Linked DNA regions of Homo sapiens. The protein of the gene in region 2 interacts with the protein of the main gene of each other region in a biochemical or structural test. Each region holds a gene or a part of one and is shown on either strand. Other genes may lie near its edges.

What was found.
Region 1: the proteins of PRKN (region 2) and UBE2G1 form a complex in vitro, tested with the Homo sapiens proteins (5 studies listed by BioGRID).
Region 3: of the proteins of PRKN (region 2) and PINK1, one has a biochemical effect on the other in vitro, tested with the Homo sapiens proteins (12 studies listed by BioGRID, with this or other methods).
Region 4: the proteins of PRKN (region 2) and UBE2D3 form a complex in vitro, tested with the Homo sapiens proteins (4 studies listed by BioGRID, with this or other methods).

What each region holds. Positions count from the first base shown.
Region 1 is NC_000017.11:4,300,557-4,308,034, reverse strand, and holds part of UBE2G1 (ubiquitin-conjugating enzyme E2 G1), read left to right. Parts: intron 1-911; coding exon 912-1,014; intron 1,015-7,478. UniProt on the Homo sapiens protein: Accepts ubiquitin from the E1 complex and catalyzes its covalent attachment to other proteins. In vitro catalyzes 'Lys-48'-, as well as 'Lys-63'-linked polyubiquitination. May be involved in degradation of muscle-specific proteins.
Region 2 is NC_000006.12:162,437,575-162,445,052, forward strand, and holds part of PRKN (E3 ubiquitin-protein ligase parkin), read right to left. Parts: intron 5,900-7,478; coding exon 5,736-5,899; intron 1-5,735. UniProt on the Homo sapiens protein: Functions within a multiprotein E3 ubiquitin ligase complex, catalyzing the covalent attachment of ubiquitin moieties onto substrate proteins. Substrates include SYT11 and VDAC1.
Region 3 is NC_000001.11:20,643,458-20,650,457, reverse strand, and holds part of PINK1 (serine/threonine-protein kinase PINK1, mitochondrial precursor), read right to left. Parts: intron 5,969-7,000; coding exon 5,786-5,968; intron 4,899-5,785; coding exon 4,735-4,898; intron 2,144-4,734; exon of another isoform or gene 1,954-2,143; coding exon 1,826-1,953; exon of another isoform or gene 1,464-1,825; coding exon 1,227-1,463; exon of another isoform or gene 25-1,226; coding exon 1-24. UniProt on the Homo sapiens protein: Serine/threonine-protein kinase which acts as a sensor of mitochondrial damage and protects against mitochondrial dysfunction during cellular stress.
Region 4 is NC_000004.12:102,824,552-102,831,919, forward strand, and holds the start of UBE2D3 (ubiquitin-conjugating enzyme E2 D3), read right to left. Parts: upstream 3,001-7,368; 5' UTR 2,876-3,000; intron 2,308-2,875; exon of another isoform or gene 2,086-2,307; 5' UTR 1,958-2,085; coding exon 1,934-1,957; intron 1,312-1,933; exon of another isoform or gene 1,187-1,311; intron 767-1,186; exon of another isoform or gene 688-766; intron 1-687. UniProt on the Homo sapiens protein: Accepts ubiquitin from the E1 complex and catalyzes its covalent attachment to other proteins. In vitro catalyzes 'Lys-11'-, as well as 'Lys-48'-linked polyubiquitination.

The DNA.
Region 1 (7,478 bases), on a different chromosome or scaffold from region 2:
TCAGTTATACCTCATTAAAGTTGTTTAAAAATTTCTCACATGATCTGCTCACCATCAGGAGGCCAGTACTTTATTAAGTCTGGTGTCTCTGGAAACATTCTGGGCTCTGTACCGCTGCTCACCTGCTCCTTAAGGTCCCTGTCTTGGCCTGTGTGCCCCCACCTTGCCAGTTCCTCGCCTCTCTTGTTTCCCACCCTGTCATCCTTTCTCCATGCCACAGCACTCTCTTTAGAGGAGGAGAACCTCACGATGCTGCAGCCATTCTGTATGCTCCAGGTGTTACTCTTAAGCTGCTCCTCTGTCCCAGAAGCTGTGGCTCTCAGAGGGTCGACATATACAGACAAGACATATGGGGCCCCTGCTCTCCTTGTGCTCAGAGATGGATGGGCACACAGGAGCACCCACTGTAGAAGCAGGTCCCCAAGACTACAGGGACAAGTCAAATAGGTGTACAAATGTTAGTATAAATGAAAGTTATTAAGCGCAGTACATTCCAATGAAAAGGTATGATTAGACACTCTGAAAGTATACCCTGAAGACAGCAGCATAAGAATTGCCAACATGATTTGATTTCCAGGGCTCCCTCTCAATGAGAATCTCTGGGGGACGGGCCTGGATATCTGCATTTTAACAAGCTTCCTTAAAAGACCACTGTAGGGCCACTTAGAATGACAAGAGCCTGGCTGGATACCAGTAGAAGTTGATCTTCTGGATAGTTTGCTTTACCCAGGGCTTTCTTACAGTATAGGCATGAAAATGTTTTGGCCATCAAGTAGCATTTTGCCTGGCAAGGTATATCTATTTAATGGTTTAAAACTTACATAAAACATGTACGCTCAAGTTCTGTAATTTATCTACTGGATGCAAATTATGTGCTTAAATGTATTGATTAAACTTTTCTTTTTCCACAGAACTCAACAAAAATCCAGTGGAAGGCTTTTCTGCAGGTTTAATAGATGACAATGATCTCTACCGATGGGAAGTCCTTATTATTGGCCCTCCAGATACACTTTAGTAAGTATAATGGAACTGACATCTTCAAAATGGAGCTCTTTTAATACACTGAATTAAAAACTATTTTGGCAGGCTGGGCACGGTGGCTCACACCTGTAATCCCAGCACTTTGGGAGGCCAAGGCGGGCCGATCATGAGGTCAGGAGTTCGAGACCAGCCTGGCCAATGTAGTGAAACCCCATCTCTACTAAAAATACAAAAATTAGCTGGGTGTGGTGGCATGCACCTGTAGTCCCAGCTACTCAGGAGGCTGAGGCAGGAGAATCACTTGAACTCAGGAGGCAGAGATTGCAGTGAGCTGAGACCACGCCATTGCACTCCAGCCTGGGTGACAGAGTGAGACTCCATCTCAAAACAAAACAAAGCAAAACCACAAATATTTTGGCAAACTGACATGAAATTATTTTTTAAGGAGCAGGAGAAATGGCTGTATTCAATATCCTTTGTACTGAATTTGATCATGGAAGAGTTTTTGTGTTTTGCTTGAAGCTCTAATGTCTAAGACCTATTGCTATTAAAAATAATAGTTTCAGGCCGGGCGCGGTGGCTCATGCCTGCAATCCCAGCACTTTAGGAGGCTGAGGTGGGTGGATCACCTGAGAGGTCAGGAGTTTGATACCAGCTTGGCCAACATGGTGAAACCCCATCTCTACTAAGAATACGAAAATTAGCTGGGCATGGTGGCATGCCTGTAATCCCAGCTACCCGGGAGGCTGAGGCAGGAGAATCACTTGAACTCAGGAGGCAGAAGAGTTATATAATTTTTGGACATTTTAATTGAGAATGTATTACACACATCAGTGTTTTAAGAAGGCTAAGGAGAACTTTCAAGATCGTCTCTTTTCATGGTTCTCTACTTGAGTCCCCACCGAATACTGGTTAGAATCTAGGTGTTCTTATCCCAAACTAAACTAATGGTCACTTTCTCCTAGTTTATTGAAAGTTATTGTTATGCTCTATGATAATCTATTAACTGACTATTAATTGTTAAACCAATGGCTTAAGGATAGACAACAATGTAGTGGTGTGAAAGAGCAGTAGAAGAAGAGAAATAGAGTTTAAAAATATTTCATGTCGTACATTTCTAGATGCAAAGACCACAGTCTTCTTTTCTGCTCTGAGTGTTTGCAGACTAACTTAAATTTACTAGTATGTATTGTTTTGTAAGATGCATCTGCTGGCTTGGTGCGTTGGCTCACGCCTGTAATCCCAGCACTTTGGGAGGCTGAGGCGTGTGGATCACCTGTGGTCAGGAGTTCAAGACCAGCCTGGCCAACATGGTGAAACCCTGTCTCTACTAAAAATACAAAAATTAGCTGGGCATGGTGGCGGGCGCCTGTAGTCCCAGCTGCTCAGGAGGCTGAGGCAGGAGAATCGCTTGAATCCGGGAGGTGGAGGTTGCAGTGAGCCAAAATTACGCTACTGCACTCCAGCCTGGTGACAGAGCGAGACTCCGTCTCAAAAAAGAAAACAAAACCGTCTCTGGTCTTTGGTGTACATTTTTAAAAGTGTTGGCTGTTGAATTGAGATGTGAATCACAGCAATATTTCTGGCAGCTCTGCTGGAGTGTGTATATGCTGCTGAGAATACTGGTGGTCACTTCTGGACTGTGCCTTCCTGAGATCACTAGCCTTTGCTCAGGAAAGAGAGAGCATATTCCTAGGGCAGGACCTGAGAAAGGCAAAGGAAGGTACAGGGGAATGAAGAAAGGTTTGTTAGAAGTAAGCCTTTTAGAATGCTACCAAGAACCATGTACTTCATAGAATGCTTAAAAAATATTTGTTGTCGGCCGGGCGTAGTGGCTCACGAGGCCGAGGTGGGCAGGATCACCTGAGGTCGAGAGTTGGAGACCAGCCTGACCAACATGGAGAAACCCTGTCTCTACTAAAAATACAAAAAATTTAGCCAGGTGAGGTGGCATATGCCTGTAATCCCAGCTACTCGGGAGGCTGAGGCAGGAGAATCGCTTGAATCCAGGAGGCAGAGGTTGCAGTGAGCCGGGATCGTGTCACCCACTCCAGCCTGGGCAACAAGAGCAGAACTCTATCTAAAAAAAAAAAAAAAAAAGTTCTTAAAAAACTTCTTAGCAGAAAGTAGTGAGGTTCTTGTAATTATTTCAGTGGAATGGAGAGAGTAGAGGCCATCTTGGAATTGTTTGAAGAGCACTATTGGAAGTGAATATATACACCTTACGTTTAAATAACTGCCTGTGAAGGGAAGTAGAGGCTTGTGCTGGGGGGAGGGGTGTTATAGGATTGAAAATAAATTAGTATAGGCTCAGATGGTACCCAGACCTAAGTGATTAATTCACCACTTTATAATTAGATAATAGAAATACTGTACCAAAATTCTGTAAAAGCTGCTGTGATTATCTCTCTGTGCCATCATTAGCCCTCATGTAGTCACTAGAGGGCGCTCCACTCTCTTTTCAGTCTATGTGATTGATAACCGGTACCGTTCAAGGATTACTTTGAGACTCCTATAGTTGCCACAAGTCTTAATTCAGTCATACTCATATTTATATAGCATTACATTTTTATTTTTATTAATGAGTCTTTCCAGTGCAGTAGTCCCTAAGGCCTTTCTATGAAATGTACATTCTGAAACTGGTGTGGTATACCAACTGTTTTCAGACTGATTATCAAACAGTATGGATAACCACTCATATCCACAGAAATTAAAATTTCAGGTAGAAGTGGCAATAGGTTTGTAGTACGGAAGTTTAGGGTGGATACAGTGGCTCACGTCTATAATCCCTACACTTTGGGAGGCCAAGGGTGGATCGCTTGAGCTCAGACGTTGGAGACCAGCTTCGGCTACATGGCAAAACCCTGTCTCTACAAAAAAAAATACAAAAATAAGTCAAGCATGGTGATGCATGCCTGCAGTCAGGAGGCTGAGCCCAGGAGGTGGAGGCTGCAGTGAGCCAAGATTACGCTACTGCACTCTAGCTTGGGCAACAGAGCTAGACCCTGTCTTAAACAAACAAACAAAACCAGAAAGTCTAAGAAACCTGGATATCACTGTATCATTATAACATTTTATAAATTATTAATGAATGATGACTGTATAACTTTTATCTCTCTTTTCCTTTCATCACCAGTGGCTGGTCTGTTCAAGGAGTATGTCTTATTTATTTATTTTGTTTTTAAGCACTGGCAATGATATGAAAAATCTGGAGAATCTTAAGATTATGTGTTTTGTAGTATTGCCTTGGGTAGATATAGAAAATGAAGAATCAGTTAACCAAAACTCTGAATTACATTCTTTTACAGTTGCAAAATTCTATTCCAGTTATAAATTATTTTCCAGTCCTGTGTGAGACATAGAGGCAGAAGCCATCTCTTCTGTAATGAAGTTCTGGAGGGAATGAACCTAGTGCCTACATTGCTTGGAAATGGAATGATCAGTGGTAATGCCATGCGGTTTATCACGTAGTGTTCAAGAACATGGACTTTGGGGACTGCCTTTGGTTAGCTCTCTAACTCTACCACTCTTCTTAGTTGAGTGACTTTGAACAATTACTTAAATTTGGTCTTAGCAGTTTCATTTCTAGGGTAAAAACCCTATGCTTAGGAAATGTTTCAAATGTTCCATGTTCTATTGCTTATAATAGCAAAAAAAAAATTATTTTTTCCCCTTTTGCAGTTTTATTATTTATTTTTGTAAATGTCAATTATAATTCGAAGGACACTTTGTAGTTACTAATTAGACTATATGAAAAACTGTACAGACTGTTTGTACTATAATTTGTGTCCCTAAGAGATTAGGGGACTCAGTAACAGAAAAATCAACTCAGAAGGGTCACTGCTCAGCAGTCCACATAACCACATAGTAGAGCCCAAGCTACTGGTTGTGAGTAGAAAGAGACTTCATACAAATATCTTCACATGTCTTCTAGCATTATGCCCCTACCAGGAAAGGGAATGTCTGTCACAATTTTTTTTTTTTCTGCTGTAAGATAAAGAAAAGGCTGTATCCCTTAGACACATACTTAATGAAGACAATCTCAAAAGAAGCTCCTGTGTTTTTCTGTTTTCACTGTTCTTTTCTGAAGTTCACCTGGATGTTCCAGAGCAGTTTTCTAAACCTTTCATTGTTGGTTGGCCTTTTGTAGAATTCTTCAGCAACACACAATACAGAAGACACAGGCTAAAATAGTTCTCACAAATACACTTTGAAATAGGTGTATTTGGATATAAATACAACTTGCCATTCCATTATTTTTTTTCTCATGACTAAACTCTAAATTTTTAAAAATGGAGATTTTCAAACCAGTGATGTGCAAAAGCCCATTCTCATGACACAGTCATTTAAACTTATTAAGTATGGGAAAATTTTATTTCTTCCCTTTGTCTTGTGGAATAATTTAGGTTCTCACCCTGGGCATGATTCACAAAATAGAGTAAGACCACAGATAAAAGTCACATAGAATCACAGGCAATGAAGAAAACTTCTAAAAACAAATATCCCCCAGTGTCCAGTATCATCCATCCCAGCAGTGATGGAAATGATGGCCACCCCAAGATTCTGAATGGAGTGCGTGAAGCCATATGCAGTTCCCAGTTGATGTTCAGGAACTACAGATGCCACTGTTGGCCAAAATGCACAGGCAAGCGATGAATAGGAGATTCCCAGAAGACACAGCAACCCAAGGGCTCCACATCATAAAGGCCAGCATCATGTGGGACACAAGAGTGGCTGCAACCACACGCAGAACCCAGATGCTGTTCTTCCCCGTGTCATCCACTGGGAGCCCAAATACTGGGGTGTGGGAGCTGATAACGACATATACAACACTGTTCATTGCACTTGCTGCCTGGAAAGAAAATCCAAATTTGTCTGTAAAGAAAACTTTCCCAAGTCCAATAAAAGGGAACATGGCAACACAATAGCAGACACAGATGATAAATATGAGCCACAGGGGTAAGGAGAAATCCTTTACATCAGTTAATGTAAAAACTTCCCCCCCCTTTTTTTGTTGTTGTTGTTCTTTATGAAGGATTCTCTCTGCTCTCGCATCTAAGTAAGCAAGAGCCAAGGAAGGCACAGATTAGTGAAAGAATACATTTTATACCCCCAATCTTAAGTGTGACCCCAGGGGTTGTGTGACCAGCAGAACCCCACGAAGCTTCAATCTTAGAATACAGCCAACTCACGAAGTTCATGTTTACCGTACTTCCAATTCTAGCCATGCTAAATTGTTGGAGTCCAGACACCAGGTTTAATTCTTTGTCTTTAAACCAGCTGACAGCATATGTCCTGGGCAACTGCTGAGCACTCCCCACCAATCCAAACACAAGTCTTTCAAATTCCATCAGCCAAAAAACATTAAATATTCCACCCAGAACAAAACAACCTGTCCAGTGCAAATAAAACAGCTAAAAGTAATTGTGCCCCATCATATTCCAAATACTCGGTCTTTTAAAAAGCCACCAAAGAAACACAAAACTACATTGGGCCAAGAATACCAGGCATATAGCAGCATGAATTTCATGGTGTTCACCTGCCTGTTCCGTTTATCCTGAGTCTGAAGGGCAGCAGGATTATTATAGCAAAAATAGCTGCTGAAGCCAAGGAAACACATCAATAACAGCATCAAAAGTCATAGCCAGGTGACTGGAGGCCACAGAAGGGCCAGCAGCACCCATGCTTTCTCATCCTTCTCCTCCATTGCGCCCGTGGGAGGCTGAGAGGCAAAAGGGGTGACAACTCCAGGACCTGGCAGAAAAGCAGTGCCCACGGAGCACAGCCAAGTCAGTGATCACATGACTATGTGATTCTGACTATCATAGAATAATAGTGAACTGTGGCGGATAGAATGAATGGACAAGAGACAGCTACAACAGGACTATAGATTAATAGAACAATGTTGAGCAAATTGCAGACGGCAGCATACAGCACATTATTTACATAAAATAAATATGGCAGTATGGTAGGATTTGATCCTTGTAAGATTTTTATAATTTAACTCAAAAACAGTAATGGAGGCCTCATGGAAAAAAATTGAACTAGGCCTGGGTTTTTAAACACTTTCAAATGTGAAACTGCTGGTTACATATCTCTCTCTCTCTTTTTTTTTTGTTTGAAAACAGAGTCTGACTCTGTTGCTCACTGCAACCTCCGCCGCCTGGGTTCAAGTGATTCTCCTACCTCAGCTTCCTGAGTAGCTGGGATTATGGGCACCTGTCACCATGCCTGGCTAATTTTTGTAGTTTTTAGTAGAGATGGGATTTCACCATCTCGGCCATGCTGGTCTTGAACTCCTGACCTCATGATCTACCCGCCTCAGCCTCCCAAAGTGCTGGGATTACAGGTGTGAGCCACCGTGCCCGGCCTACATACCTCTTTTTAATATCATGATAGTACTTATACTATAGCATCTGTGATGAAGATAATATGTAATGAAAGATATTTTGAATTAATTGGTGCCTTTTTAAATTTTATTTTATTTATTTATTTAT
Region 2 (7,478 bases):
TCTCACCTGCTTCCACCCCCTTCAGAACTGCTGGGAAGCATGAATCTGCCCTCCATTTCTATCATTTTGTCGTTTTGAGAATGTTATATAAATAAAATTATTCAGTGTACGATCTTTGGGGATGGGCTTTTTCCACACAGCACATTTCCCCTGAGATCCATCCAAGATATTTTGTATATCAACAGTCGGCTCCTTTTTTACTGCTGAGTAATATTCTAGGGTGTGGAGGTACCAGTTTGTTGAACCACAGATCCACTGAAAGACATCAGAGTTGTTTCCGTGTTCTGCTAATGTGAATAAAACTGCTATAAACATTCATATACAGATTTGTGTGTGTACCTACGTCTTCATTTCTCTAGGATAAATAACTAAGAGTATAACTCTGTCATCTGGTAAATACATATGTCATTTTTTATGAAACTGCTATATTCTTTTCCAGAGTGGTTCTACCATTTTATATTCCCAGTAGCAATTTGCGAGTAATCCAATTTCTCCACATCCTCACCAGCATTTGGTGTTGTCTTTATTTTGTATTTTAATTTACCTACTTTACCTATTACTCTAGATATTTCTTTATACATTCTTAACTTGTCATGCTCTACTGCAGTTGCTATTTTGTAGGTCAAGTTTAGAAATCTTACCTTTCCTTGCATCTGTGTTTATGTTTGCCTGAAATGTTTCTTCTACATGTAGAACTACATTAGACAATGCTATAACTTTTGCTGCAACCCTCTAACATAATTTAGAAAACTCAAGAGGAGAAAAACAGTGCATTGTATTTAACCATATTTTTGCTTACTATGTTTTTCCCTCCTTCCTAGTGTTCCAAAATTCCTTTTTTTGTTGTTTCATTTGTTTAGAAAATTTCTTTAGCCATTCTTTTAGGGTAGGTCTGCTGGTGACAAATTCGCTTAGTTTTTCTTTATCTAAAAAAAAAAGTATTGATTTGTTCTTTCTTCCTGAACGACATTTTCACTGGGTATAATATTACAGGTTGGCAGTTCTTTTCTTTCAGCATTTGAAAAACATTGTGCCACTTCCTTCTAGCCTTCATGGTTTCTGATGAGAAATCCACTGTAATTAGAACAATGTTAGCCCTATAGGGAAGGTGTGATATTTCTCTGGCTTCTTTCAAGATCTAAAATTTGTCTTTAGTTTTAAGAAGTTGAATTACGTTGTGTGTTGGTGTGGGTTTCTTTGGGTTTTTCCTGTTTTAGATTCACTCAGCTTTATAAATCCATCTATAACTTTATGTCTCTTGCAAACTTTGGAAGTTTCCAACACTTATTTCTTTGAGCATTTGCCCACCATTATCTTCTCCTTCCAGGAATCCCCTGACACAAACTTTAAATGCTCTGTTGGAGAACCACAGGTCTCTGAGGCTCTATTCCTTTTTTCTTTTTCCAGCCTACCTTTTCTTTGCCATTTGGACCGTGTCATTTCTATGTTCCAACTTCCAGTTCACTGACTCTTTTCTCTGTTCCTTCCATTCTTATGTCAAACCCATCAGTGAGTGTTTTATTTCAGAAATTTCAAACAAGAGGCTCTCCACTCAGCCTTTACTAGTGTTGGTGGGGACAAGGATAGGGCCGCAGTTTTTCTGTTGCATTTGGCTGGAGTAGACTGGTTATTGTCTAAATGTTTTCTATGTTGCTAGGCAGCCCCTTTCTGAGTCCTCTGGATAAAAAACAGGCCATTGTTGGGGATTTCTTCCTTCCTTCCTTTCTTCCTTTTCCCTTCCCTTCCCCCTTCCTTTACCCCTCCCTTCTCTCTCTCTCTCTCTCTCTCTCTGCCCCTCCCTTCCTCTCTGCTTCTTTTTTCTTCTCTTTTCTTTTTGTCTATATATGTTGACATTTCCTGGTTGCCAGCTTCTTCAGTTCCACATCTGAGGTAACGTAGCAAAAAGAAAACTCAAGAAATTCACCTCTGGATTCTTCCTTGGGTTCTAAAATCCCTACTCTGTCCACATTCTTCTCACTACTTTCAGAATCTTCCTAAGCTTGTACAGCGGACCCTTGAATAACATGGGTTGAAACTGCATGGGTCCATTTATATGCAGATTTTCTTCTGCCTCTGCCACCCCTGAGACAGTGAGACTAACTCCCCCTCTTCCTCTTCCTCTTTAGCCTACTCAACATGAAGACAAAGACAATGAAAATCTTGATGATCCACTTCTACTTAATGAATAGTAAGTATCCTCTCTCCTTTTTGTAATGCTGTTAATGTTTTCTCTAGTTTTTTTATTATAAGCATACAGTACATATTACATATGAAAAATATGTATTAATCAACTGTTCATGGTATCAGTAAGGCTTCCCGTCAATAGCAGACTACTGGTAAAGTGTGAGGGGAGATAAAAGTATACATGAGTTTTGTCTACATAGCGGTTGGCACCCCTAACTCCATGACTCCACGAGTCAACTGTACAATATGCAATGTCTAGGCTTTTTAGTGTAGTTGCTGGGAGGAAGAGGGAAAAGTATGCCTACTCCAGCTTCCCAGAAGCAAAATCTGTGCCAGATCATTCGTTTTCAATGTCTATATTTTTTCCATTTTCCTTTAATTTTTTAAAGTTCTTAAAGTCTTGCCAATAACAAAACTGAACAGATGAGTGTGTAATGAAAATAACTATACTCTAACAGTGCTTCTCTAAGTGGCCTGTGGATATGCTCTCCCAGAACTGAAAATTCTATGAAAATTTTTTAGATGTGACATCAATTCTATTATAATCTTACAAATACCCTTTGCCAGTTAAATAGACAAACTCGCTTTTTAAAATTATGACATTTCATAAGACTGTGGTCTCAAGCTATAGTTCCCCAAAGTACCTGAGGTGAGGCACTAAAACTAATTTCCTCCTCAAAGAAGGTGAAACTAAGTGTGAGAGATACTGCTCAGTATGTGGGGTGACCATTGCCTCAGTTTTCCTAGGACACTCCCAACATATAATTTTGTCCTGGAATAATTATTGACAGGGTCTTCTTTTATACTCACAATATCTCATTTTGCATGATAAGCTAATATATATGTTCATATCACCTATGATAAAGAATACGAAACCAGGAGGAAGACACCCAGCAAGCATAGACACCACCCCAGCCATCTCTTCTTCTCTTCAGGACACCAAGGTGTATATTTAACATTCATTAATGGAAGCATTAAGTAGCTCATATGGAAGGTCCATCTTCTTTTTCTCAGCAGCAACTTATTATTAGATATTTTGTGCTTATACTGTGAAATATAGCACCTGTAATGATAATGGGTAACTAAATGATATTGACTAAATAGTTGTAAACATATGTTCTAAGATTATACAAGAATATCTAGGATGCTAAAATTCTGCCAGTTGTACACTTAAAGAAAACATAGCCATCAATTTGCAATTACATGTGTAACTTCCTAGTCTTTACAGTGAAACTCTTCTATGAACAAAGTTTGCCAACTTCTCGGCACCTAAATCATTTAACTGTGATTTAATAGAAGTTCCATAAGTATGAACCTTTCTTTTTCAGTGTCCTCAGACACAAGTTCTCAACAGCCAGCTAGGCATCTCCAAACACACGTACTCAGCTGGCATCAACTCCCATCATGTTGGAACAATGCAGCATCCTTCCCCCAACCAAACCGGGTCTTCAGACTTCCCATTTCCTTCTATGGCATGACATTTTTCTCTAGTTCCCCACCAATGAAACTTCAATGCCAAGTTAGTCAAGGTTATGTGAAATATAGCCCATATTTTATTTTTTGTCCAATCTTCAACATCTCTCTTCAGGTTCTAGAAGAACAAGAACCCATCCTTTTTGGCAAGCATTCTCTATGCTCATTCCCCTATTCCTCCATCTACAGAATCCTACCTCAACTCAATTCATCCAAGAAGTTCTTCCTGGTGACTTCCAACCAGATGTGTTTTCTCCACCTTTAAAACTTCATAATATTTTCAGGTGCGATACGGCAGTTATGTTTCATATTCTTATATTATAGCTATTAGGTTGAACAACATGAAATTGTTGAACCTGTAAAAATGGCAATCCCATATGGTTCAATCTAATATTTCTCTCGGTTTTAGGGCTCATAAATAAAGAGCAGTCTCCATGAAAACAGGGGCTGAGTTAGGTCTCTCTTTTGGATCCCCTGAGAAGCCTAGGACATTGGAAGTGCTTAAGAAGTGTTTGTCAAAATAGACTCATAAATCAACACATGTCTTAGGCATATATGTTTGCAAAGTCAATCATCTGAAGCAATTAGTCTAACTACATATGAAATCGCTAATTGTTTTATGAATCAGCACAAATGGCAGTTTAGAACCTGAAGGTTTTGGCAATATAAAATGTTTTGATTCAAGGAGCTGTTTTAAAATTATTTATTTGTGAAGGAAACATCCTTGGATTTAGAGGTTGGCAGATACAGTGAAAATCTTTTTAGTTGACTGAAATAGAAAAAAAAAAAATCAAAACCCTTTTTAGCACATGCACTTCCCTTATAAAACCAAATTGCCTGAAAGCAGAGGCCAGCAGTTTGTGCACAACGAGTATGTGCCTCAACACCATCAGCAGGAGATGCAATGCAGAATGACAGGAACAATTTGCATTTCTGTAGCTTCTTTGTATACCCAAATTCTGAGAGCATTTTACAAAGCCATAAATATCGTTACCCACAAGAGACAGGGAAAGGATGCAGATACAAGGACGGACTTTGTGTACTCTGACCCAGGAGCCCCCCTGCGCGGAGCAGTGATACCCACACAGCTGTAAACCTGAGTGCAATTAATTGATGCTGGTTAAGAAAAGGGGAACATACATCTGCAGGGTCCTTCACAGTCACAGGGACCATTCCCAGAAAGCGTTTCGTCTTTCTTGCATTCACAAAGAATAGCGTCAACAAATGTTGAGTTGTATTTGCGAGTTTCCCCAACAAAGGACGGGTCTCTAGTTCTAGGTGATGGTGGTATTATCAGTCACCTCACCAGTCCCCCTAATTCCTACAAAAATCACCAATCCGAATGACATGTGTGTAGGGCTTTCATGGGGCTAGGAGCAGTGGGCTGCCAGAAGCTCTGCTGGGGCCAGGAGAGAAGAGAGCATCGTTCACACTTATTACGTTGCAGGGGCCTATTTCCAGGGACAATGTTACTGAACCTTGGAGAAATTCATGCAAAGGTATACTGTTGTTGTGCTCCAGGCTTCCTTCCCCATCAGCTGCAGAACTGTGCGATTCTGGTCCTGGCCAAGGAGTGCCCAAAGCTAGTTGCCAATGGGCCCCGGAGCCCACACCTCCTCTAGCGCAGCATAGCAGCAGCCCTCACTAACCTCCAGGGGTCACAATTGGGTTACAAATTCCTCACAGTGCAGGGACTGAGCAGCCTGATTGGGAACAATTTATTCGAATCCTTCTTCGTTAAGATTCAAATGGAATAAGTAAGGTAGAAATTGAACAGACACAGAAATTGTGCCTTGCTGCTCCTGTAGTCAGTAGACATTTATTCACTAAGCCTAGCTCGTGTGTTCTTTCTCTCTCTCTTTCTCACTCGCAGTTGTTCTTCCAATCTTTCCTGCTTGCTGTTTTAATGCATAATTAAGAAGGTCAGAATTAATGAAGCAGTGTGGAGTAAAGTTCAAGGAATCCCCAGGCACTATTTATTCTATTAGATCTCAGGCATGAATGTCAGATTGGCAGCGCAGGCGGCATGAGCAATGGAGCTGGCGGCATCCCAAGAACGGCCGCCAAGGGAGACTCACCTGCACAGTCCAGTCATTCCTCAGCTCCTTCCCTGCGAAAATCACACGCAACTGGTCAGCCGGAACCCCCTGTCGCTTAGCAACCACCTCCTTGAGCTGGAAGATGCTGGTGTCAGAATCGACCTCCACTGGGAAACCATGGCTGGAGTTGAACCTGACAAACACTGACCAAGGAAATTGGAAGGGAGAAGAGAAAGTGAGCATCACTCGAAGCCCTTAAATGGTGATAGCAACATTTCTCAACCGATTTACCCCTCGCAGCCCTTCAGTGAATGGTATATATTTTCTTTCACTTACAACAAAAAACTTAATGCTATAGAGCAATATTTGGGAAAAACAGAGTTAGTTACCCACGAGATTTCCCTTTCATATATTCGTCAGTGACCTGCAAACCAAAATTGCATTCTCCCTTTGACATCCATCCTGGGAAACAGAGAGACTTGAGCAGGACACTTGCTTGATTGGAATTGAAAGAGTCCCATGAGTTTATTGAAAAGACTCAGCTCTGACAGCATGTACACACTCACACTCCCTCCACAGTGACCCTCTTAATAAAAATAGGAGGCGATGTGTTAGCACTCAAGGTATAGCAATGGAAAAAAATCTAAGCTGCTCTATAGACCAGAGTGAAGACCCACTCGGGGCTATGGCTCAGAGCCCTAGACTTGGGTGGTCCTGGCCAAAATGCTCCACTGGGTCTATGAAGACAATTATTTGCCCTCTTTTTGGCAGGGAGGGGGTGGAGACACTAGTGACACCATTTGTCTTATTGAAGCCACTGTTCCCCGTGAGACCCAGGCTGCATCCTCTAGTCTGTCTGTCTGCATGCCGTCTTCTCACTGCACCTGCTGTCCCACCTCTTCAGCGTCTCTCACTGCCCTTTACTTTCCATTCTTTCTCTCACTGCTTGAAGTCACGCTCTCATCACATCTTTTCTAGAGTCTCATAATAGCCCCCAACTGGAGTCTTGATCCACGCCATCACCTCCAAAAGGCCCTACATAGTTCTGCAAAATGAGCCTTATTAATACAGAGCTATGTCACACCACTCAAATCCTTTAAGTCTCACACTGTCGGCTGGTGAGGAAAGACTCCAAGATCCCTTTCATCTAGCACAAACCTACATTCCAGCATTTTCTTCATTAATCTCCATGTGTACTCTTTTAAACTAAATGCTCCCAGAAAAAAAAAAATCACAAAAAACTGCTGCACACAACTTCTTGCTTTTATTCATGACCTCCCTCCTTCTCCTCTTCCTATTGAAATCCTGCCTACCTCCATGGCCCACTTCAAATGTGACCTCCCCCAAGAAGCTTCTGGCTATCAGCTACTGCAAAAGCCTGATCTTCCTTATTCAGGGCACCAGTGGCATTTACTATATATGTCTTTTAATATTCACCACATTCCTCATGGAAGCAGGATAGCACACGGGTTAAAAGAACATCCTGAAGCATTAGGAAGACCTATGAAAAATCCCCACAGACTCCTTTAATTGGCTTAGGATGCTAGGGGTCAATCTATTAACCTCCCTCTTTAGGTCTCAGTTCCCTTATCTTGAAAACATAAATAAACCACAGACCATATTATTCGGTTCATTAAATAATATTTATAGTATTTAAAACTATCGTCTTGTAACATTTAAAAATAATGGACATTTAGCTGTTTTTGATATACATTTTGCCTTCTTTAAAAGATAACAAACTCCTCAAGGGCAAGTGTTATTGTTTATTTACTGCTGTGTTTC
Region 3 (7,000 bases), on a different chromosome or scaffold from region 2:
TGCGGCTACTCGGGCAGATGGTCTCTGCAACAGGAAGGGAAGCTGTAGCTAGAACATCTGTTAACACAGTCTCAACCCAAAGCCTGCTTTGTTAGTGAGGGTCTTCCCTTCTCTGGTCCCAACCCAATTCTTCCTCTACCCTATCTCCTACTGATGCCCTTCACTCAGGTGACAAATACTGCCTGTCCCCTGCCCGTGCTCCAAGCTTTTCCATGTGTACACCTCTGCATGGGGCAGCATGCATTGTTGAAATAGCCTTTCCCCCTGGGTGGAAAGCCTAGTGCCTCTTGTGCACAGCTATCTGGTCCCTTGAACCAGGTAAGTAGTCTCCTCTATCATTTCATAACTGGTTGCAGCTGTTGTTCTAACCTTCACTGCGCACCAAGATAGCAGGCCACGTACAGAGAGCAGTTAACGGAGTGGCAGAACAGTGCTGGGGTGCAGGTATGGCTCAGCTCTTTGCACTAAGCCTGCCCCTGAGCCAGCTGCCACTCCAATTATGGCTTCGGATAGGTCTGCCTTTGCATTCCTTTATATTAATTTCACAATGTCCAGATCTGCTCTCAGGAGATGTTTTCCATCTCTCTCTGATCAGTTCTCAGCTGCTTCCATGAGCTACATCTCCATTAAACATTTCTCAAAAATGCCTCCTTTTCTCTCTCTGAATAGCCTTTTTTTTTTTTTTTTTTTTTTGAGACAAAGACTTGCACTGTCACCTAGGCCAGAGTGCAGTGGCGCGATCTTGGCTCACTGCAACCTCTGCCTCCAGGGTTCAAACGATTCTCCTGCTTCAGCCTCCCGAGTACCTGGAATTACAGGCGTGTGCCACGACACTCAGCTAATTTTTGTATTTTTAGTACAGACGGGGTTTTACCATGTTGGCCAGGCTGGACTGGAACTCCTGGTCCCAAGTGATCCACCCGCCTCAGCCTCCCAAAGTGCTGTGATTATAGGTGTAAGCCACCGTGTCTGGCCTCTGAACAACTTTTTCAGCAACTAAAAAAGCCACAGGAGTTGAACTGCTAGGATTCTGACTATGCTGTGGTGGCTAGTGCTCCTACTCCTACCTACATTAAAATCTGTTTTTTGTTCTCTTGTAACTAGCCTTTACCTTCCTAACACAGAGGATCTGTCACTGTGGCTCTGGCCCAAACCTGACCTTCACTCTGGAACGAGAACAGAGGTTTCTACCCACACCGTCCCCTCGAAGCCGGGGACAGCCTCACCTTGCTGGCCTCTCGCTGGAGCAGTGCCCTCACCAACTGTCTCACGTCTGGAGGCACTGACTCGGGCAGTGCAGGTAGCTGAGCCTCTTGGTAGCTGCGGCTTTCAAGGTGGGCCTTGCCCTGGCCGTAGAAGGGATTGACAAGCCCGAAGATTTCATAGGCGATGGCTCCCACTGCCCAGGCATCAGCCTTGCTGTAGTCAATCACTGCCCTGGGGCCAGGACGGGCCGTGGACACCTGCTCAGAAGCAGTGGGTGAGACATCACGCTGCCCGCCCATCTAACCTTTTCATGTCCTGCACATCACCTGATCCATGGGCTAATCTGAACTCTGTCCCAAGGAACCCAGAGCTTGAGTGAGCTGTGGCTCAGACCCAGAAGGGGTCTGCTTAGACCACCTGGTTTATGTGACAGGACTTGCATTCTCCTGGAACATGAGGGAACGCCGGAGGAAAGCAAAGTGGCAGGGAAGGAACTTGTGCCAAATTATGGGTCAGAAAAGATGGAGGTGTTGGGTTATCACAAGGCATCGAGTCTCCTGCATTCAGTGGACATGTGGGGGAAGGGCTGCCGATGGCGCATGACACACTCGGGACTCACCTCTGGGGCCATCAGACAGCCGTTTCCGCCCCGATCCACGTACCAGCTGCTGAAGGGCAACTGCAGGCCGATGCTCTCATCAGCCAGGCAGCAGCCAAAATCTGCGATCACCAGCCAGGGGCAGCCGTCTGGGAAGGAGCAAGCAAAGTGACCATTTCTCCTCCCCTCCTTCCCTCTGAGAGGCCCTCCTATGTCCCTACTAAAGCCACCAGCAAGACATAGCTGACAGGGGCTAATGGCTCAGTGTTGGCCCAGGAGGTCAGCAAGGCCTGAGAGCTGATCAGAAGGGCCTGCTGTGCGAACACGGAAATGCCTCCAGTAAGTACAGGCTGCAAAATCCCCAGGCAAAGGACTGTGTGGCTCAATTTAAATCATGTTCTAGTAATTGGAGCTGTCCCCAAGACCAAAGGAGCTAGAGCTTGGTTCAAATGATCTCCAAGGGCCCTTATACCCCAGGAGACTTTGATTTGAATTTGAAACCCCAAATCCAAACCTAAGAACCAGGTGCATTAAGAATCAGTTATTGCCGGGTGTGGTGGCCTGTAATGCCAACATTTTGGGAGGCCGAGGCGGGTAGATCACCTGAGGTCAGGAGTTCAAGACCAGCCTGGCCAACATGGTGAAACCCCTGTCTCTACTAAAAATACAAAAAAACTAGCCAGGCATGGTGGTGTGTGCCTGTATCCCAGCTACTCGGGAGGCTGAGACAGGAGAATTACTTGAACCTGGGAGGTGAAGGAGGCTGAGACAGGAGAATCACTTCAGCCTGAGCAACACAGCGAGACTCTGTCTCAGAAAAAATAAAAAAAGAATTGGTTATTTGTAAAAGGGTCCACACAAAATTCCTTTAAAAAGCCAGTTCCTGGCTGGGCGCAGTGGCTCACGCCTGTAATCCCAGAACTTTGGGAGGCCGAGGCAGGCGGATCACGAAGTCAGGAGTTCCAGATCAGCCTGACCAACATGGTGAAACCCCGTCTCTACTAAAAATACAAAAATCAGCCAGGTGTAGTGGCGTGTGCCTGTAATCCCAGCTACTCAGGAGGCTGAGGCGGGAGAATTGCTTGAACCCGATAGGCAGGGGTTGCAGTGAGCCAAGATCATGCCACTGCACTCCAGCCTGGGCGACAGAGTGAGACTCCGTCTCAAAAAAAAAAAAAAAAAAAAAAGCCAACTCCCAGCTGGGCGTGGTGGCTCATACCTGTAATCCCAACATTTTGGAGGCTGAGGTGGGTGGATCACTTGAGGCCAGGAGTTTGAGACCAGCCTGGCCAACAGTGAAACCCCATCTCCACTAAAAATAATAATCCCAGCGCTTTGGGAGGCCGAAGCAGGTGGATCACGAAGTCAGGAGATAGAGACCATCCTGGCTAACATGGTGAAACCCCGTCTGTACTAAAAATACAAAAAAATTAGCCGGGCGTGGTGGTGGGCGCCTGTAGTCCCAGCTACTCGGGAGGCTGAAGCAGGAGAATGGTGTGAACCTGGGAGGTAGAGCTTGCAGTGAGCCGAGATCATGCCATTGCACTCCAGCCTGGGTGACAGAGCGAGACTCAGTCTCAAAAAAAAAAAAAAAAAAAAATCAAAAATTAGCTAGGCGTGGTGGCACCTGCCTGTAATCCTAGCTACTCAGGAGGCGGAGGCACGAGAATTGCTTGAACCTGGGAAGCAGAGGTTGCAGTGAGCTGAGATGGCGCCACTGCACTCCAGCCTGGGCAACAAAGCAAGATTCTGTCTCAAATAAATAAATAAATAAATAAGTAAATAAATAAAGAAATAATAAAAGCCAGTTCCTCTAGTCAATTATTTTAAATCTTCTAGTTCAAAAATTTATCAGATGTATGAATCTCCTTACAATTTTCCTAGGCAAGTGGCCATTCAGCTTCTACTTGAATGCTTCCAGTGGTAGGCAACTCATTTCCAGAGGCAACTGGGCTTACATTTGGACAGCTTTCATTGTTTGAAAAATTTAATTAATTAATTAATTTATTTTGAGATGGACTCTCACTCTGTCGCCAGGCTGGAATGCAGTGGCACAATCTCGGCTCACTACAACCTCCGCCTCCCGGGTTCAAGCAATTCTCCTGCCTCAGCTTCCCAAGTAGCTGAGATTACAGGCGCCCGCCACCATGCCCAGCTAATTTTTGTATTTTTAGTAGAGATGGGGTTTCACCATGTTGGCCAGGATGGTCTCGATCTCTTGACCTCATGATCTGCCCGCCTCAGCCTCTCAAAGTGCTGGGATTACAGGCGTGAGCCACTACCCCCGGCCGAAAGTTATTTTTTATAATGAGCTAAAGTCTACTTCTCTTTTACTTTATTATTTTTTATTATTTTTTTGAGATAGGATCTCACTCTGCTGCCCAGGCTGGAGTACAGTGGCACATTCATAGCTCATTGCAGACTCTTAACTCCTAGGCTCAAGTGATCCTCCGACCTCAGCCTCCCAAGTAGCTGGGGCTACAGGTGCATGCCACCATGCCTGGCTAACTTTTTTTCCGGCTAATTTAAAACATATTTTTTTTTTGTAGAGAAGGGATCTCACTCTGTTTCCCAGGCTGGTCTCAAACTGCTGGCCTCAAGCAATCCTCAAGCAAGCCTCCCAAAGTGTTGGGATTACAGGTGTCAGCCACTGTGCCGGGCCTCTTTATTTACCTAGGAAAACTTGCAGCACTGAGGTCCTTGTTCTTTAAGTGGGCTAGAGAAAGGAACTTGGGAAGTGCTGTCTCTCTGCAAAGAGAGAAAAAAAAACCCCGTTCTAAGGGAGAGATTGCTAACCTCTTGTGTGCGGAGCTAAATAAAGACATGACTTAGAACACAAAACCAGAGAGGACCTGAAGAGTCAGTCCTAAATGCTCCTGACCCACCCTCTAGTGCCCCTGGAGAGCTCTGATGGTGCAGCAGGTTCCTACCTGGGTCCAGCTCCACAAGGATGTTGTCGGATTTCAGGTCTCTGTGCGCGATGCCCTGTTGAACCAGATGGTCCACGCCTTCCAGCAGCTGCAGCAGCATCATGGCGGCGAGGCGGGGGCTGGGTGTGTTCACACAAAGGTACTGGCGCAGGGTACAGGGATAGCTGGCGGAGAGGGGAGAGGGCCTCTGGCTACCACACATCGACGACTCCCAATACGTTTTTTTTTTTTTTTTTGAGATGGAGTCTCACTCTGTCGCCAAGCTGGAGTGCAGTAGCACGATCTTGGCTCACTGCAACCTCCACCTTCCAGGTTCAAGCAATTCTCCTACCTCAGCCTCCCGAGTAGCTGGGATTATAGGTGCCCGCCACCACACCAGGCTAATTTTTGTATGTTTAGTAGATACAGGGTTTCATCATGTTGGCCAGGCTGGTCTCAAACTCCTGACCTCAAGTGATCTACCCACCTCCGCCTTCCAAAGTGCTGGGATTACAGGCGTCAGCCACCATTCCCGGCCTCCTAATAACCTTAATCACTGTTAGGGTTAGGCCGTTCCTCTTCCCCTTCCAGGAGCACTTTGATTCCCACTTTTCCCCAGCATCCTTTCTGTTCCCTCCCACTCACCATCCTCAAATTAGGAAGTAAGAGTTGGGGCTCCCTATATTCAAAGTAATGGTGCAGATAATTATTTCCTTAAAATAAAATACCCACTATAGCAAAGTTAGGGGATACAGAGGGTGAGGAAGGAGAACGGTTTTTATGTTAAAAACAGATAAGTCCAGCCACAGAAAAGGTTAACAGTCAAATGGACCAAAAGGACTAGGTGACAAGTATGTTCTGGATGAAGATGAGAGTTTGTTTCCATGAAAAATCGTCCTACAGGGAAAATGCTCTCCAGGGCAGATATGTTCCCTTTGCATGGCTTTCTTCTCCGGAAGGGTGATGACCCTGTTCTCCAAAACCCCCTGATCAAGGTGCACATGGAGGGCAGGAACCAGCTCCCCTTGGGAGATGTATCAGCTCCAGGCCCTGCCGCGCTGCTGTCACTTACTTCTTCATAACGAGGAACAGCGTCCGGCCATGGCCCAGGCCTTCAGGGTGGAGGCGTGAGGGCAGCACATCAGGGTAGTCGACCAGGGCCCCTGGCAGCAGCGGCACGGAAGAGGTGAAGGCGCGGAGAACCCGGATGATGTTGGGGTGAGGGGCTAGTTGCTTGGGACCTCTCTTGGATTTTCTAGTCAGCCAAGTGAGACAAACATATGAGGCCAGCATCAGATACAACACCTGGAAAGAATAACCTAAGGCCACACCAACACTGGCACTGACATTCATTATTCACTTACTATCAAATGTTTATCATAGATTTGCTATGTGCCAGGTACTGTACATGGTGTTGGAGAACACATCTGATGACTCCCCTACCCATCCTTCAATCCATTTGTCCATCCGTCTGTCCGTCCGTCCATCCGTACACCCATCCATCCTATCCATCCCATGTGGCAGAACACAGGTGGAGAAACCCTGGTATCAGACTGCCTGGGTTTGCATTCCAGGTCTGCCACTGTAAGTCCTTGGCTGAGTTGCAGTAGCCCCAACCTTATCCACAGTTTTGCTTTCTGCAATTTCAGTTATCTACAGTTTGAGAATAGGTGAGTACAAGAAGATATTTAGAGAGAGGAGAGAGAGAGAGACCACATTCACATAACTTTTATTACAGTATATTGTCATAATTATTCTATTTTATTAGTTATCTTTAATTTTTTACTGTGCCTAATTTATAAATTAAACTTTACCATAGGTATGTGTGTATAGGAAAAAACACAGTATATATAGGGTTTGTTACTATCTGTGGCTTCAGGCATCCACTGGGGGATCTATCTTGGAATGTGTCCCCTCTGTCCTTATCTTCTCTGGGCTCAATCTCCAGGGTGCAAGGGGAATGCAGTGTTAACACGCTGCATAAGGTTGTCAAAGTGTGGAAGGCACCTAGAATCGTGTCTAGCACAGAGGAAGCTCTCAGCTGCTATTAGCTGTACTATTATTCATTCAACCAATACGCACTGTTTGCATGCTGAGTACCAGACATCATGCTGGAATGCTGTGGAACTATGGCACAGAACAAGACAGAGTCCCTGTCCTCATGGATTTGCAGTCTATCAGGGGAGAGAGATATTCATCAATGAGTAATCATGTGAGCTCCCTAAGAGCAAGGACTGTGCCTGAATTTTCTCCATTATTCCAAGTCTAGTACAGTAGTTGGCATAGA
Region 4 (7,368 bases), on a different chromosome or scaffold from region 2:
GCTAGAATTCTAACTGGAGCATTTCTGCTCCAATGTTTACACTCTTAACCACTGTTATATTGTCTCTCTAAAGCTTTTAAATCATTTAAGTGGTGTCACAGCAGCTGGGTATGACCTGTAAGAGAAAAAAAATCAGAGGCCTTCCTTTAACGTGTTCTGTTCCACATGCACAAAAAGCTATGGATCTGGTACTATTCCACATTTTAGTGGCCTGAACTAATTCCAACAGAAAAGATTTTTATTTGTACTGAATGTTATGCTCTTTGTGTAAACCACACTGTAACATACAACTAGGCTTCTCCAATATGTTCCTGGCCTTTAAAGTGGTCACAAAAAGAGGTAATTATTTCAAAATAATTTTTACTTTAATCCTTAACTCCTAAAAAGCGTTTCTTCCTCTTTTCTTTCATTTCACAAAGATTTAAATTTGTATTTCGCATAACCCAAAATGACGATGTTATGAAGGCCCAAAACAAAATTCACGATTTCATATCAATACATACTAAGAGTGAAGATTTAAACCTTCCTCTTTCATGAAACACCAATCTTGCCAAATAAACTCCAGTCATAATTAAATACAGGCAAATGTAGTATCAGGTCTATTTTAGTAAAGGCAAATTCTTGCCATTCCTCTCAGAACTCTTTTTAAAAAAGTAATCTATTAAAACCAAAGTTTCTAACACTCACCGACACTCCACAATTTTTCTAGTAAGGCTGAATTTATTCCATGACATTTTTTTCAAGTTAGCTGTAAACACTCCACCCTCTTCGATTGTGCAACAACCAAACACATCACACAAATACAAGTCACAAAAAAGGGAAATACAGTTTAAGAGTTTGAATTTAGGTAAGTTTTGAGCAGAGGATCTTAGAGCAGTGCACAACGCGATATAAAAGTTAACATTTAACAAATCATATTAATTCACATTATTACGAAAGGAGATGCCGGAAAGAGCCTGAACCAGTTAAAGCAGCCGCCATCTTAAAATGCGGGATAGAAGTTAGAGCAAGAAAATGAGACTAAACCACCGGAGGTGGAGGTTCCGCTCACTCCCAGAGCTCCGAAAAATCCTAGTTTTTTTTCAACTTAAATCGATAATATACTATCAAACCACATTTCAAGTAACGAAACAAGGGTGTTATTAAATAGAATGAGGCAAAAATAGGTACATTAGCTTTCCCTTACTGCCATCGCACCCCTTATCCACCCCCACTCTCCAGCCAAAAGGAAAAGGGAGCTTCCAGAATGCCTTTTACATCAGTTCCCGGTGTCCCTCGGATAAATAGCTTCGGGTGAAAAGCTGCAACTACAAAATACAGGAAGTGGCAACACTGTGTCATTCCATCTCCTCCCAAACCCACTTATTCGGTGTAACCTGCCCAGAGTCGACTAAGAGTTTCTACTAGACTCACTGACTGACCTTCAATACGCAAGACTTCTTCTACCCGACCCTCAGTCAAGTTCGGGACTCGCCAGATTTTTTTTCTCTCCTCCGAGTTTTCTTTCTTACCCCTAGAAGGCCTAGATAACCTTGATCTCACAACTAAACTAAGTTTTCAAGCACCAAGAATAGGAAGCGCCATGACATCTGCTGGAGCGTCTCTCCGCAATTCGGACCCCCAAAAAAACTCCTTCTTAAGCAGCAAAAAAATAAAATAATAAAGGCGCCTTAAGTCACTCTCCTCCACCCCTAATTTGCACCGATTCCACTGAAGCACTCAGGATAACACCTCACTTGCCACAAGTGTTCTCCGTTTCCTAGCTTTAAACTTCATTTCTTCAAGAAGTATATCTGCGTTCTCCATCCCCCCATGGAAGAAGTGATCCAAGAGGTATTTTCAGAATTATGCTTCCTTCCCACCCCCACGCTTTCCTCTTGGCCCGAGCCTTCCTTTTCTCCTACCACCCCATGCCCTTGTCCCCGCGGGTTACCTTATTAATCCGTTTCAGCGCCATAGTGTGTGCTTGTCGTCTGGCTCCTCACTCTCTCGGTGTATGCTCAAAGGTCCGGCCAAAACTCTTGATTATCCCGGCGGCGGGGCAGGATTGTCTCGTCTCACACCAGCTCTGCCAGACACAGGCGCCTTTTGCAAAAACGGAGCAGATCAGCACTCGCACAGGCCCCGAAGAGCCCCTGATGAATCCAGGTCCCTTAAGACAGCCGCGATCCGGGGTGGGTGGGGTGGCGTGGCAAAGCCACCAACAGCCTCTGTACCGTGCTTTCGGCCCGAAGTGGGGGCGAGGGTGACGGGAAGAGCGGAGGTGGTGGCTACAAGTTTAACTTCCCGGCCTCTAGAAAGGAAGAGACCCGGGTGGGAGAGGAAGAGGCGTAGGAGAAAGGGGTGGGTGCGGGGCAGGGTCCGGAGCCCAGCAGAGGAGGAGCCGGGGCCTAGTCGGCGCTATACCGGCGTCACTAGGGCAAAGAAAGGCAAGGGGGGAGGGGGAAGCATAAGACTCCGGACGGACGCCGGGCTGCTTTCGGTTTCTGTCCAAAGGTGCGGCCGGGAAAAGGAAGGAAATAAAGGAAGGGAGACTTGATGTGTATTGCTATCCTCGCAGCGAGCTATTCTGTGTCACCCCTGACGCCACCGTACACTCACTCCGCCTTCCAGCGCGCTCCCGCGCGCGCCCGCCCAGCCACCTCCACCACGCGCCCGCGCTGTCCCTGAGGCTCCGGCTTAGGCGCGAGGACGCGCCCATTCCCCCTCCTCCTCCAGCAGGAGAGGCCGCGGCTTCCCCAACCTTCCCACCCTAACCCACCGCACCCAATAGGCTGGCCGCTCAAGCCGCCCAGGTCCCGCACTGCCCCTCTTACCCGGCCGGCCACTGGGCCGGCCTCCCTTCCCTGCCCTAGCCGTCCACACCCACGCGTACAGAGGGGCCGGGGCCTCCCTCAAGCTGCGGCCTCGGCCTCCTCCCCGCGCGGCAGCTGGTGCCTCCCCGGCCCTACGGGGCTCACGCGCACGACACAGCCACAAGATGTCCGCTCTGACGGAACTACTGCCAGCTGCCACGCTCCGCCCCTCCCCCTCCTCCTGCCTCTTCACCGCCGCGGATCAGTCCGCCAACGCCGCCGTCCCGAGCACAAGACCGATGTGAGGCCGAAGCCAGACGGCTTGCTTCCCACGTCCGGGGCCGAGTGAATACGTGTCAAGCCCTTTTCCTTCTTCTCGGAACAGCACCTTCTTACTAAACAGATCGGAGATTGGACCAGGAGGGCGGGGGAGGGAGGAGGATCATGAGCTGGGGGGAGGGTGAACGAGTGGCGGAAACCCTTAGGCTCAGAGAAGCATCGAGAACCGGAAGGAGACCATGGGAGGAAGGTAAAGGAAGCAGCCGCTGCGCGATCCAGCCCCACGCCCCTCCCCACAGCGTCCCCCAGTTTCCTCACTTGGTATCGAGGAGACGACTCTCGCGAGAACTTCGTGGCTGGCTAACCGAAGCGGTAGCTCTGCAATGACTTAAGAGCAGTTTTGTGCGCTTTTCCTGACGGGGTTCCGCCTCCAAAATGCATAAGTTCTCGCGAGACGCAGTAAGGCACCGGCTCGAACTGGGGCGGGCCACTGCCAGGAAAGCAACGCCCCTGAATGCTTATGCCGGTGGTTGGTAGAGGAAATGGAATTCCCCAGACTGGTAAGAGCGCGCGCAGACACAGCCTTGTCTCACGCGCCCAATCAGGAGCGTGTGGTGGGAGGTGCCAAGGATTAATTACCAGATACCTTTAGTCTAGCTCGGGCCGGGATTTTGAGGTTTCCGGTGGAGCAGGTGAGCAGTATTTACTCGCCTGCCCTCCTGGGCTGGTTATGCTGTGGGAGGAGGCGCCCCTCGAGATGGGAATAGTAGTTTTAAATAGACCCAGGTTGGCCGCTCATCAGCGCTCCCACGTGCTGAAGTCTAGTGCACGTCTGACCCTAAGGGAGCAATACTGAGAACAGCAGGGAGCAGGCTGAGTCAAGCTCAATTGAGTGGATGGGGCTAGGACAGAGAGAGTTAGGGGCAGGGTTTTCACTGGTCTCCGTAATCAGTCGCTGCCGTCCGCCAAGGTGTAGATGTGGGAACAAGCTTAAATTCTCAAACTTTAGCTTCTGTTGCTGTGTTTCAGTTCTTGAGCCAGAAAGTGTTGAGACTAATTAGTTAATTAGGTAGAGTTTAGAGTCAGAAAAACAATACAATACTTCCTGAAATATCCAAGTTGGGAGGTGGGATTTACCTCAGTAGGATTGGCCTGTTTTAGTCAAGGGTTTAAAGTATGGAGACGGCAGTTATGCTCTCTAGTGTATCCTTCAGGCAAAAGAAAGACCTTAATTTTTATGAGGAATTTAAAAGTGGGTAAGCACTGACCAGCTTAAGGTTTTTTAACATTCCTTAATGACCCCAGTTACCGAAGTGGAGATCTTCAATTACTTGGAAAAATAAACTTGTTTTAAAAATACACTTAATTTGAAAACTGTTGCAGAAAGTTTTACCTAATAAAAACTTAACACGTCAACAATGATGAATATAAGTAGTCTAATGTATACTGTTCAAGTGACCATGTAGTGTCACTAGTGAAGCAGTGCTTCTCAAACTAGTGTCCATAGGAACCACCTGGGGTTTTGTTGAAAATGCGACTTTGATTTGGTAGGGCAGTGGTGGAGCCTGAGAGCCTACATTTCTAACTAGCTCCCAGGTGATACAGATTTTTCTCGTCTGAACCACCCCGTGAGTAGCAAAGCACTGAAGTGCTTACCTCATGGCCTAACTGCTCATGAGGCTCACCTCAGTAACACCTCTGGCCCCTCCCTCCTCCCTGAATAATCTGTGTTCTCTCTCATAGCTAGCCAGATATACTAAAAGCACAGGACTAGGCATGAAGATGGAGGGAGGAACCCAGATTAGTTATTGCTTCCCATTTGCTTGATATTGGCCTGGTTAGTTATCTTCTAACCCCGTTTCTTCACCGCTAAAGTAAGTAATAATGACTGTCCTTTCTCACAGGGTGATTGTGTGGTTAAAGTGTCATAATATATGTGAAAGGACACTGGAGACTCTACAGTGCTGTATAAATGTCAGTTATTAAAGTAACCAGTCAGACATTAACTGGCCATAGTGTGAAACAAATGTATAGTAGTAATAGTGGCCACGCCTGTAATCCCAGCACTTTGGGAGGCTGAGACGGGTGGATCATATGAGATCAGGAGTTCGAGACCAGCCTGGCCAAAACAGTGAAACCCCATCTCTACTAAAAATACAAAAAATTAGCTGGGCGTAGTGGCGGGCGCCTGTAATCCCAGCTGCTTGGGAGGCTGAGGCCGGAGAATCGCTTGAGCCTGGAAGGCGGAGGTTGCGGTGGGCCAAGATCACTGCGACAGAGTGAGACCCTGTCTCAAAAAAAAACAAGAACAAAAAACAAAACTAATATATATGGAGTTCTAGATTATCCATGCTTATAAAGGCAAGTGATTGTGTAATCACAAACTCATTATTGTTAGGCAGTGAAGTAAATTCATTGGTTGATTGGGCTTTCTGTTTACAAGTTTGTATTTGCATAAGTGGACTTACATTTCTGCTTATATTTTGCCATGGTTAAAATCAAAAGAAACATAGCCTAGAAGCATTTTGATGCCTTAGGATAAAGCAGGCTAAGATTAAGTTAAATTTTAAAACATTATTCATGTACCTGTTGTTACAGAGAGCCCACTTTACAGTTGCAAATAAAGTTAAAACATTTTCATTCATTTAACTTACTTGAATTACAATGGTAGAGATGTCCTCATTTGAAACAAGAAAGGAAAATAATCATGTTTTTTATATTGCAGTCGGAAATAATGCTAACAAGAAAAAAATTATGGCTGTAAATACTGAAAGAAAAATTTACATTTAGAAATTAATAAAGGTACAAAAATGTTGAAAATTTAATTAACTAAAAATAATCCCTTCCTTAATAAATACTATTTTGAAGTCCTAAAAACTTTGTAAATATAGTAGATCAGATTATCTTGCATGAATTGACATAAAACATGAGAAAATAGAAAGGATCAAGAAAATTAAAGCTGGGCTGGTGGCTTACGCCTGTAATCCCAGCACTTTGTGAGGCCAAGGTGGAACGATCACTTGAGCCCAGGAGTTTGAGACCAGCCTGGATAACATAGGGTGACCCAGTCTCTACAAAAATAATAAAACAATTAGCTGAGCATGGTGGTACACGCCTATGGTCCCAGCTACTTGGGAGGCTGAGGTGGGAGGATTGCCTCAGCCTGGGAGGTTGAGGCTGCAGTGAGCTGTGATTGTGCCACTATACTCAAGCCTGTGATGGAGCAAGACCCTGTCTCAGAGAAAATTACTAGTAAATGGGCAATTAATCTACCAATCTGAATAATGGTGGTGTGCCAGGGTCTTATTACATGAATTTTTCAGTGAGGCCACGTTATTATAATAACTTGAGAGTAAGGGGTTAATTAGAATGTATTGATGAATAAACATAATTAACAGATTTTATATATATGTACTTAATATTGTATCTATGTTTTCATGTATCTTTAATTTTGTTACAGAATATTATAACTTGCCAAAGACACTGGCTCTAGTACAGTGTATACCATTTTATTAGTTTAATTAAATTGTAAATGCTACGGTCCAGATTTTATATTCAGAATGCTCATTTACATATTCTGCCTGGACCAAGTAATTTGGAGCCCAGGTCAACCAAATGTTATTTTACATTGTTTGCACAAAAATCAAATTGATTTCTATACTTAACAATTCAGAATCTCATTAAGTCAAATTAATATGGTTTAAGAAAGTGTACTTTATTTCATGCTAAGATGTCATTTTGGCCTTAATAAGGCTTTTGGCATGTAATGAAGCATGCACAAATCTTTGAGATAAAAATAGAGCATTTTTCCACACAAAAACATATATATACACAAATGTTCAGAGTAGGGCTATTCTACTTTTTAGTAGAAACAACTCAAATGTCCATCAGCTGATGAATGGATAAAGAAGATGTGATATATGTGTATAATGGAATATTATTATTATTATAAGGAACAAAGTACTAATACATGTTACAAAATGTATCTTGAAGCCTTAAAACATTCTGTCAAGTGAAAGAGCCAGACACAAAAGGCCACATACTGTTTGATTCTGTTTATGTGAAATGACCACAATAGTGCATTCTGTCTTCCAAAAAGCTGGTTTACTTACAAACACAGGTTAAAAAAATATATATTTGTAATACTGCTTTTGGTGTAGGGTGAGGCACGATAAAGAGACTTTCATTCGGTTTGTCAATCAGTGATACTTAGGTCTGAATAGGCAAGTGGGAGTCTTTCAGGTTTAGGACAAAGAATGTTAATGTAGTAGAGATCTGTTGATAGAGTCACTCC